Homo sapiens: one gene and its partners. The protein of the gene in region 3 interacts with the protein of the main gene of each other region in a pairwise test. Each region holds a gene or a part of one and is shown on either strand. Other genes may lie near its edges. The genes, in order: CWF19L2, RALBP1 and CCDC88B.

Evidence for each region.
Region 1: the proteins of CCDC88B (region 3) and CWF19L2 interact in binary tests that used the Homo sapiens proteins (3 or more experiments, as listed by UniProt).
Region 2: the proteins of CCDC88B (region 3) and RALBP1 interact in binary tests that used the Homo sapiens proteins (3 or more experiments, as listed by UniProt).

The regions. Positions count from the first base shown.
Region 1 is NC_000011.10:107,444,250-107,447,899, reverse strand, and holds part of CWF19L2 (CWF19-like protein 2), read left to right. Parts: intron 1-3,650.
Region 2 is NC_000018.10:9,516,939-9,520,588, reverse strand, and holds part of RALBP1 (ralA-binding protein 1), read right to left. Parts: coding exon 3,286-3,650; intron 1-3,285. UniProt on the Homo sapiens protein: Multifunctional protein that functions as a downstream effector of RALA and RALB. As a GTPase-activating protein/GAP can inactivate CDC42 and RAC1 by stimulating their GTPase activity.
Region 3 is NC_000011.10:64,350,190-64,353,839, reverse strand, and holds part of CCDC88B (coiled-coil domain-containing protein 88B), read right to left. Parts: intron 2,681-3,650; coding exon 2,585-2,680; intron 2,365-2,584; coding exon 2,224-2,364; intron 1,711-2,223; coding exon 1,454-1,710; intron 1,097-1,453; coding exon 953-1,096; intron 787-952; coding exon 600-786; intron 490-599; coding exon 344-489; intron 126-343; coding exon 27-125; intron 1-26. UniProt on the Homo sapiens protein: Acts as a positive regulator of T-cell maturation and inflammatory function.

The DNA of each region.
Region 1 (3,650 bases), about 43 Mb from region 3:
CATATTTATGATAGCTGTGTTAAAGTCTTGGTTTGCTGTTTCATTTTCTCTTGTTTTTTCCTGTTCTGTTTCAATTAAATGATTTTTCTCTTGAATATGGGTCACATTTGCTTGCTTCTTTGAATGTCTAGTAACTTTTAATTGGATGCTGAACCCTATGAAACTTATATTGTGACTGCTGGATTTTGTTGACTTCTTCAGAGAGTATTGAGTTTCCTTTTGGCATACAGTTAATTACTTGTGAATTAGCTTAATCCTTTTCAAGGATTGTTTTTAAGTTTTGTTCGTATGCACCTAGAATAGCTTTACTCTAGGACTGGTTTAGCCTTTCTACTAAGGCATGACCTTTGTGGGTTCTCTGCTGATTGTCATGGATGTTCAGCGAGGTTTCTTTATTCTGGTTGGGAGGAACTAGAATGTCTTCCAGCCCTTTGTGAGCTCTGGGGATTGTTCTGCTTACAGCTCTTTGGTAATTGTTTTCTCCATGGTAATTTTTCTTTGCCTGACCTTGTGGACTCTCATCCTCAGCATGTTCAGCTTGGTCTTTCTTTAAAGACTCCAGGGGTCCTTTAAGTAGATTTCTGGCACCCTTTCTCTGTGTAACTTCCCATCTGTACTTTTGTTTCAGCCTTCACAAAGTTCAAATTCCGTTTCCTTTGCTCAGTGAGATTTTCATGTTCTGCTTGGGTTACCCCTCTATGCCACAGTCTAGAAAGTGCCTTTAGATAAAAAGCTGTAGAGATTGTAGTTTCATTTTTATTCCAATTTGTATGTATTTCTAGTTTGATGCCATTTATTTTGTCAAGGACAGAAGCAGAAGTCCTCAAGATCCCTTGAGTTTTGCTGGTAGCACTTTTCTGTCTTAGTTCCACCTTCTAGGTTTTGACCACTAGATAGAATTAGAGGTGTGGTTAATTCTGCAGGCTGCACAAGAGAAGGAGAGCCCTGAAGGCTGTGTTAGGTCAGGAGGCGTATTAAGCTTGATAGTTAATGAGTTCAAGGTAAAATGGAGATTGAAACTAAAATTAGCAAGAGAACTGAAGTCGTAGCATGGGGAGCATCAATTTTGCTGAAGTGGTAAGGTGAGTGAGTGCATAATTGTGAAAATGAGTATAGGTTGCTGCTTAAAAGTTTCTGACTAGTGCTATTGAAAGAGTAGAAAAAGACATTTCATTTAATTTCAGCTTGCATTTATCAAATGCTTATTCTTTGCCAGACACTGTTCTAGACATGGGGAATATAAAAATATATTTTTAAACCTTTGGGGAACTCATTTCCTAATTGGATAAATAGATACATAATATTAATAATATGATTTTGTAGTAGATTTTGTAGAAGAAGATGTTGGCTTTATTTTCTGTTGTTACTGAGTTTAGCATACCATCCAACATGATGCCATGGTAGTACAGGGTATTAAGAGGGATTTCATTTGCTAACTTGTTGATTAAATGATGCTTGAATTGAGACTAGATAGATTAGTAAGCATTAGGCAAATAAAGGTGTGCTTGGCATTTCATGCATAAGGAATTGCGAGAGCAGAGACATGGAAGTATGAGATAATATGAGTGTGAGTATGTGTGTATGTATGTAAATATAACTATAAGCAATTTGATAGTACTAAATTATAAAACAAGAGGAGGGGGTGAATGGAGATGAAACTGTAAGAATTAATAGGGCCTTGTAAACCAAGAGCTTTGACTTTATTCAGTAGGGAATGTATCATCTAATTGGGTTCAGCTGCATTTATTAGAAAATCTCAGAATAGCCATTGATTATACAAGATAGAAATTCATTTTTTTCTGATATGAAATAAGTCAGGTAGACAGTCTAGGGCTAGTATGGTCTTCTGGGACCTAGGCTTCTATTGTCTTGCTTTTCCATCATCCTTACAGCATTGCCTCTTAGTCCAGATAACAGGAAAGAAGATGCTCTTTTTTTTCTTAACTTGACTTCCAGAAAGTCCCATAAAATACTTTTGTTTACATCTAATTGGACACTTGATCATAAGGCTTCACTTTCTAGCATGGGAAGTACATTACTTCTCCAAATAAAATGGGATTCTGTTGGTAGGAAAGAAGAGGGATAACTAGCAGTCTTTGTAATGGGAAGCCCTAGAAGAGAAGTACGGTGGTCAGATGTTCCCTTTATATTACTCTAAATGTATTTGGGGTGAGGGGTTGGAGAAAGAAGGGGAGCAGGAAAGATGAGTCCAGGAGATTAATTAGGTCTCCTGGAATCAGTTGTTTAGGTGAGAGATAAGATCTGATCTAGGGCTACTACTTTTTTTTTTTTTTTAAGGCGGAGTTTTGCTCTTGTCCCCCAGGCTGGAGTGCAATGGCACGATCTTGGCTCACCACAACCCCCGCCTCCCGGGTTCAAGATACTCTCCTTCCTCAGCCTCTCAAGTAGGTGGGAGTACAGGCATGCGCCACCACATCTGGCTAATTTTTGTATTTTTAGTAGAGATGGGGTTTCACCATCTTGGCCAGGCTGGTCTCGAACTCCTGACCTCATGATCCACCCGCCTCGGCCTCCCAAAGTGTTGGGATTACAGGCGTGAGCCACCGCGCCCAGCCTGGGGTGCTACTTTAAGGATCAAAGAAGAGAATATTAGTTGGTATTTTGGTTGCAGGTAACAGAAACTAAATATAAATTGGATTTTGCAAAAAGGATTTATTATTAAAGTACAAAATTCTCATAAGACATATAGATGTAGGAATGCAGCTAGGCTTCAAGAATAGCTGGAATTAGAATTGTGAATGGTTTTTGCAATTTTCTTGCCATTTTTCATTTCCCCTACCCTGAGTTCTAGTTTTTAAAAAATTTTTGCTGATTTCTATTTCTCATGACAGAAATGGCCTCTCCCAATGCCTTCCCATTTCTTAGTTTTAGATAAGCCCATTTAGACCTGATTTCAGATTCCTGTGGAATGGCTCAGGTTGATGTGAATTGGGTCAGGTACCTACGTTTGAACTAATCAGTAGTGGCCAGGGATAGAGGTAGGCTCGTATGGTAATCATGTATTCACTCTATGGTATATTTAATAAATATTTTAAAAATGAAAATGGTAGGCTTGAATATGTGAGGTAACATCATCCTGAGTTTCTGACTTGGTTTAAGTGGGTGGTTGGTTGTTCCAGATAACTCAGTTCAATACTATACAAGGAGAAGTAGATTTTGTAGAAGAAGAGGATAGCTTTATCTTCTGTTCTTACTGAGTTTAGCATGCCATCCAACTGCAGTAGACAATTAGTCAGTGAAACTTTGGTTAGACAAATTTGAAAGATATCAGCACAATTTATTGTAGTTCAGGCGATCAGAATGGATTTAATGGCCCAAAGGGAATGTTTAGACATTGAAAAATGTCATGGGCAAAGAATGGAATCCCAAATAACAAGATATTTAAGGGCTAAGCAAAGGAGGAAGAGTTCATGAAGGAAATGGAGAAGAAACAGAGTGGGAGGAGAGCTGAGAGGTGTCATGGAAGCCAGGAAAGTGAGTTATCAACAGAGTTGCATTAAGCAGAGAGGTCTAGAGAGCTGAAGACTGAAACGTTTTGTTGAGTTCGGCACAGTGGAAGCCACTGGTGAGTTTGGAGAAGTTTCAGTAGATTAATGGGGACAGTAGATGTATTGTAGAGTTTTGAGAAA
Region 2 (3,650 bases), on a different chromosome or scaffold from region 3:
ATGGGTTTCTAAAATCGTTTTGCTTATTGAACAAAAGGAAACTAAAGCAAATGATTTGCAAACATTACATAAGATTTTAAGTCTTTAGTACAATCTGCATTAAGTGACGTAATTTAGTGGCGATTGCTCAGAAGAACACAAAGTAGTTTTTTGCTGTTTTTAATACTTAACACTTTCAGCCAATTATGTGAAACAAGCTACAAATTAACGCTGATAGTTTCTGTGGGTAAATGCAGTCTAAGCTGAACAGCACTTCACAGTGGTTCCTTACATCTGGACTTTGGCATTCCTTATCCTTTGTGAAAATCTTTTAATGGCATTATGATAAATCTGTAACTTATCCAGTATTGATAAAATAAAATCAATAACAAAACACAAAAATAACACTATTATTTTTATATAATCTTTATTTTGTGACAGAAAATTAGAATTCCCATTTTCTTACTTTTATGACAATATGGGTAAACCATAAGTGATAATAACTGAAATTCTTGGCAAAGATTTTTTCTCTTCCTCATGTATATTTAATTCTTCCCCCTATAGTACCTACCCAACAAATTGTACAAGTAGACAATTAGAATGTGTGTTTGGTTTGTCATTACTCTGAAACTGTTATCAAAATGTTTTCTTTTTAAAAATTGGACACTACAAATGAAGTGTTCCACAGAAAGAAAGAGCATACAGGTACACTTTAATCCAAAAAATACAAGAAAATGTAGATGAGTAAATTAAAATGTACAAAATCACTTAAATTGTCTTTCATATTCGTTTAAAATTAGATAAGCAAGAACTAACACTTCCAGCAAAAGGTCTTAAAATGCATAAGTGAGAACTAACATCTCCAGCAAAAGGCAGTATTATTATTAGCACTGTCCATGACAGTAGCATAAGTCGGGCTGACTACAGCACATTGCCACAGGTTAGAGAATAAACCCAAAACTCAGCAGAGCAGGAGTTCAGCCCCTAGCTGTTGCAAGGATGGGCAGCAGCTCTGTCTGAATGCTTTTACACACAGAGAAGAGTTCTATGACTCTGAATTTCCAAAAAAAATGCAGACATTAAAAGTAGGTCAGAGACAAAAAGAATCCTTTGAACAAAGCTGTGGAAAATTTTCAGAAAAACTTTTACCTAAAACAAAACTAATTCATGGCTATTAAGACCATGTGAGAGAAGCAACTTATGTTATTAATGTTTAAATGTTTAAAACTCAATTCAGTATATTATTATTATTATTTATTTATTTTTTTTTTTTTTGAGACAGAATCTTGCTCTGTTGCCAGGCTGGAGTGCAGTGGCGCGATCTTTGCTCACTGCAACCCCTGCCTCCCGGGTTCAAGCTATTCTCCTGCCTCAGCCTCCCAAGCAGCTGGGACTACAGGCGTGCGCCACCACTCCTGGCTAATTTTTTGTATTTTAGTACAGACAGGGATTCGCCATGTTGGCCAGGATGGTCTCAATCTCCTGACCTCGTGATCTGCCCACCTCGGCTTCCCAAAGTGCCGGGATTACAGGCGTGAGCTACCATGCCTAGCCAATTATTCATAAAAATCAAATATTTGTTTAAATATATTTATATAATACTAAGGAGTTATAAACTCAAATTCAATGCCTAATTTATTTAATTTTCTATAAAAAAGTAACATTTTACCAAAAATACTCTTAAATAATGGCATGTAATCTAGTGGATTATGTAACGGTTTTCCCAATTATCAAAAATATCTGCCCTTTCTCAGCAAAACTTAAGTATCAAATCTACCTTCTAGAATTGCGTATGAACCAACTAAATGAAAAAACTAAGTCTATCTCTCTATATATTCCACATGTGTATGACTTAACAACTCATCATGAAAGTACTTGTGACCAACAAGTATTATTATTATTATTTTTGAGACAAGGTCTCAATCTCGCCCTGGCTGGAGTGCAGTGGTACGATCATGGCTCACTGCAGCCTCAAACTCCTGGGTTCAAGTGATCCTCCTGCCTCAGCCAACAATTAACTTTATAAAACAAATCTCTAAACAGAAACTGATGAGGTACCAAGACACTGAATAATGGGAATGTAATAATTTGGAACACAGATGCTGCTACAGGTCAGGGCTTTCATCCTATCCTGGTATAAAAGTCATACCGCTTTCTAAGAAATCTTTTTACTTTTAAATAATATACATATTGCTTGATTTAGATACCCAATCAAAACACATTCTTTCCAAGTATGAAATTTAATTTGTATACATATGGAATAAAGATAAATAGAAAATCCATTTTGCTAATATACGTAATAGTTGCATGTAGCTGACCAAAGCATTCACATGTGGGGCCTAAACATTTACTGCTTCTTGGTCTTTTGGCTAAAGTTGGGTGTAGTATCTGTTCTAGGATTTCTGGAGCAGGGAGATGGAACAGAAGCTTGCTTGGACCACTCCATGTATTGACCGGGTACTGCACTAACTCTAAGAACCGCGCACCAAGAAAACCAAAACCAAAACCATGTCATGCCTCTTAGCTGAGCTAAGGAAATGCATTATATGACTGTGTCCATAAACGTGTCTCTTGGCCAAGAAGCTTCCTTCACACAGTTAACCTTTCTTTTCTTGCTGATGGCCCTCATACCACTGAGCCTCTGCTTAGAGAGGAAAGAAAAAAAAAAAAAAAAAAGCAGGCGCCTGGGAGTGGTGGCTCACTCCTGTAATCCCAGCACTTTGGGAGGCCGAGGAGGGCAGATCATCTGAGGTCAGGGGTTCGAGACCAGCCTGACCAACATGGTGAAACCCTGCCTCTACTAAAAATACAAAAATTAGCTGGGTGTGGCGGCAGGCGCCTGTAATCCCAGCTACTCAGGAGCCTGAGGCAGGGGAATCGCTTGAACCCAGGAGGCAGAGGTTGCAGTAAGCCGAGATCACGCCACTGCACTCCAGCCTGGGCAACAGAGCGAGACTCTGTCTCAAAAAAACAAACAAACAAAAGAAAAAAAAAAGCAGGGTCTGAATGCAGCCCTGTTAAGCAATGCTGCCAGTATACTTCACTTTGTTTTAGTCCTGGCTGCTGCAAGCTATGAACAACTAACGTGAAATCCTCCTAATGGAAGGAAATATTAAAAAAACAAATGCCAGAACACCAAAGAAAGGCTGGGGAGAGGGGTGGATTTTTGTGCAACTGGTAGGATCAAGGAAATGAATAAGGCTTAGGATCCAGGCCAAATTTTCCTCACAATAATTTTTCTTCCTTCGAAAAATGAAACTGAAGTTATTATTAAAAACCATCAAGTGAAGTGCACATTCCCAGTACCTGATACTCTGTAGATGCCTTCACACTTCATGCCATACTTCTCTACGTAATCTATACATTCACGGAAAACGGCTGGCAGCCGAATGCCATCATACATCATGGTCCTCTCTACTGCATCAGCCAAAGGAATTCCAAAAATGGGTTTGAGATTTGGAACATCAATCTGAGGCACCTCTGGCTCCTGAATTGGCTTTTTCTTTTTCTTCTTTTCCTTCCACTGTTTAACAACATCAGCTGCTGTCAAGTCTTTTGACTTCTTCTCTTTATGTTTTTCTTCTTTGTGCTTTTCTTCTTTATGCTTTTCTTCTTTGGGTTTCTCTTTTATTTTAAAATCCTTTTCCTTCTTTTTAGAAAAGCTGGGCTTC
Region 3 (3,650 bases):
CTGAGGGAGGTGACAGGGCTGCTCACTTGGTCCGGGGCAGGGGCACAGGCTCCAGCACGCGGTATTGGTCCATGATCTTCTCCACGAGCTTCTGCTTCTCGCGGCGCAGGGCATTAAGCTGGTCCCTGGCAGGAGTGAGAAGGGAGAGGTGGGTGTGAGGCCCAGGGAGGCCGAGGCAGTAGCAAGGCACAAGCTGCAGCGAGGACGCACTGGTCCCGTGCCGCAGATTGGACTGACCTGGAAGGTCAGCTCCAACCCTGTCCCTAGGCCCTCACTAAGGGCTCTCCCCAGGAACGCCCAAAGGGGATGCAGGCCCCACCCCGCTCCCAGGCGGCCCACTCACAGGTACTCCCGCTGTTCGCGGTGCAGGTGGTCCCGACTCTCCAGGCTGCGCTCCAGGAGCTCCCTGTTCTCCCGGCTCAGGGCCTGAACTTCAGCCAGCAGCTGCCGGTTCTCCTCTTCCTGGGCACTTCGCAGCTGTGTCAATAGCTGGCAGGGGGGCACCATGGCTCGGAGGGTGGGACCCAGCTCAGGACCACCTGGGTCTAGGCTTTCTGCCCCACCACACGCCCATACCCCCACCGGCCCTCCAGCCACACCTCACACTGCGTGGTCAGCCGGCAGGCGCTCAGGTCCAGCTGCTGGTTGGACTCGCGCAGCTGCTGGCTCTGCATCTCCAGCTGTGCCCGCTCCAGCTCCAGCCGCGCCAGCCGGCCCCGTAGCTCCCCGCGTTCACCCTGCAGCTCACCCCGCTCCCGAGACAACTCTGCCAGCAGCATCTGAGCCCTTGGGAGGCAAGGAGAGCTGCTCTCCAAGGGACCTGGGTCCCCAGTCCGAGTGCTGGCCAGAGAAGTTATGCCGGGGAGGGGAGGCCAGACAGGACCCCACACCCCCAACCCACTTTCAGGATGGGGCCACTGAGAGCTGCTAGAGGCTGTGGCAGGGGCGGCACCTGTCGTGCTCGCTCTGAAGCCTCCGCAGCTCCTCCTCCAGGCCCCGCTGCCGATGCCCATCTTGCATCAGGCGTTCACGCTCTGCCAGCAGGGCCACCTCCTGTGCCTCCACGCTGGCCCGCTGGGCCTGCAGCTGCTCGTGCCTGGGATGGACAAGGGGCTAAGAGGGCTGTGTGAACCTATGGCCACCACAAGCAGCTGGCTGGACTATCTGGACCCGGGGCGGGGGGGTCTGTCACCTCCTAAGCCTAGGTCCCCCAGAGGAAGCCATTGGGCAGAATGCCATGCCAGGTGCCCACCACTCCCAATAGGTGAGCCCCACGGGGAGCCCAACCCAGAAGTGTGGGGAGCACAGCTACCCCAGAGGGCACAGCAGTGGCCGGGGCATCACAGAGCGGAGGTGGAGGTGCTTCCTGATGGGGAGTCAGACCTGCTGAGGGGAGTCTTCTCTGGCAGATAGGGGGTGCCAGGGGAGGAGCTGGGCATTTGGTGATGCTCACCGGCCCTGCAGCTCCCGGTGGGCCAGCTCCAGTGCCCGCATGTTGGCCTTGAGGTCTCGGTGCCGCACCAGCAGTCCCTCTAGCTCGGCCTCCTGCCGCCGCTGCAGCTGTGCCAGGGCCTTGTGGTCCCGAAGCAGGGCCTGCTGCTGCCCGCGGGTCTCCTCCTGGGACTGCCGTGCCGCCCGCACCTCCTCCTCCAGCACCTCCAGCTTCCGGTGCAGCTCCTGGCCCTGAATCTCCAGCACAGACTTCTCGGCCTAGGATGGAGGAGGGAAGCAGGGGCTGCTGGGGAGGAACCCCTGGCTGGAAATCGAGTGAGAGGCGGGGGGCTAAGGGCAGACGGTAGGGCCCAAGACAATGAGAGAGTTGTGGAGGAGGCAAAGGGCTGGGGGCACAGCAGGCAGTACAAGCCCCAGCCAGAGGCTGATGGTGAGCAGGGGAGAGGCGGCAGAGGCTGGCTGGGCCAGGCTGTCCGGAAGGGGCACAGGGCAGAATGGGACTAATGGCGCCCTGTGGAGGGGAGGGCTGGGACAGTGAGAGCGCAGGGCGACATGGGTGTAGATGTGGGGGCTGGCGGCAGGTAGGAGGAGATAGTGGCAGGGAGGATGGTGCAAAATGGTGGCTGGGGTCAGAGGACAAGGATAAATGAGACTGGGGAAGAGGTGGGGCAGCTGGCTGGGAGCTGGGATAGAAAAAGGCCACAGGATGATCCAAAAGGAGCAGGAGGGGGCAGTACATGGGCAGGGATGGGCACCCGGGCCACCACCCACCTGCAGGCGGCTGCTGTGCTCCTGCGCCCGCTGGCTCTGCAGCAGCAGCTCCTGGGCACGGCCCTGCAGGCTCCCCAGCTGCCCCTCCAGGTGCTGCAGCTGCCCCTGCAAAGCTGCCTTCTCTGCCACCAGCATCGCATTCTGCCCAGAAGTGGGGGTTAGCAATAGCCAGGTGGCGGGGGCACCCCCTAGTGCCTACCACAGGCCCACACTCACACTGCATGGGGCACCCCCACCCCCGGGCCCACTGTGAGTCCACACTCACACTGCACGGGATACCCCCCAGCCCAGGGTCCACCGTGGACCCACACTCACACTGCACGGGGCACCTCCCCAGGGCCCACTGTGGGCCCACACTCACACTGCGCTCCACCTCAATAAGCCGCACATTCTGGGTCTCCACCAGCTGAGGCTCCGCACGCTTTTTGGGCCCCAGCCCCGCGGGGCCCTGGCGCAGCTGCAAGGAGAGTCCCTGGGAGGTCATGCGGGACAGCCGCAGTGCCTTGGGGATGCCTCAAGGACCTGCGCTTATGGACCTGCCCTGCCAGCAGCATTTAGCCTAGTCCACCCCGCCCCAATCCCATGCCTTCCCTTGGATCCCACAAGTCCCTGCTCCTGGTTCCTGAAGCTCCACCGTCACCACCCTGCCCTTCTCAACTTCTGTCTCTCTGCGGCAGAGCCTTCTGCTCATAACACTTCTCCATCCCACTACTCCTCTAAGACTATTTGGTTTTTTGTTTTTGTTTTGAGACAGAGTCTCACTCTGCCACCCAGCCAGGAGTGCAGAGGTGTGATCTGGGCTCACTGCAACCTCTGCCTCCCGGGTTCAAGCAATTCTCCTGCCTTAGCCTCCCGAGTAGCTGGGATTACAGATGTGGGCCACCACGCCTGGCTAATTTTTAGGGTTTTTTTTGTTTTTTTGGGTTTTTTTGAGACGGAGTCACACTCTGTCACCCGGGCTGGAGTGCAGTGGTGTGATCTCGGCTCACTGCAACCTCCTCCTCCCAGGTTCAAGCAATTCCCCTGCCTCGGCCTCCTGAGTAGCTGGGACTACAGGCGCCCACTACCATGCCCAGCTAACAGCTAATTTTTGTTGTTGTTGTTGTATTTTTAGTAGAGATGGGGTTTCACGGTGTTCATCAGGATGCTCTCGATCTCCTGACCTCATGATCCATCTGCCTCGGCCTCCCAAAGTGCTGGGATTACAGGCGTGAGCCACCACGCCCGGCCTGATTTTTGTATTTTTAGTAGAGATGGGGTTTCACCATATTGGTCATGCTGGTCTCGAACTCCTGACCTCAGGTGATCCACCTGCCTTGGCCTCCCAAAGTGCTGGGATTACAGGCATGAGCTGCTGTGTGGGGCCTTCTCTAAGCCTCTGTTTCAACCCCACCTTCTCCACAAAACCTTCCCTGATAGACTCGCAT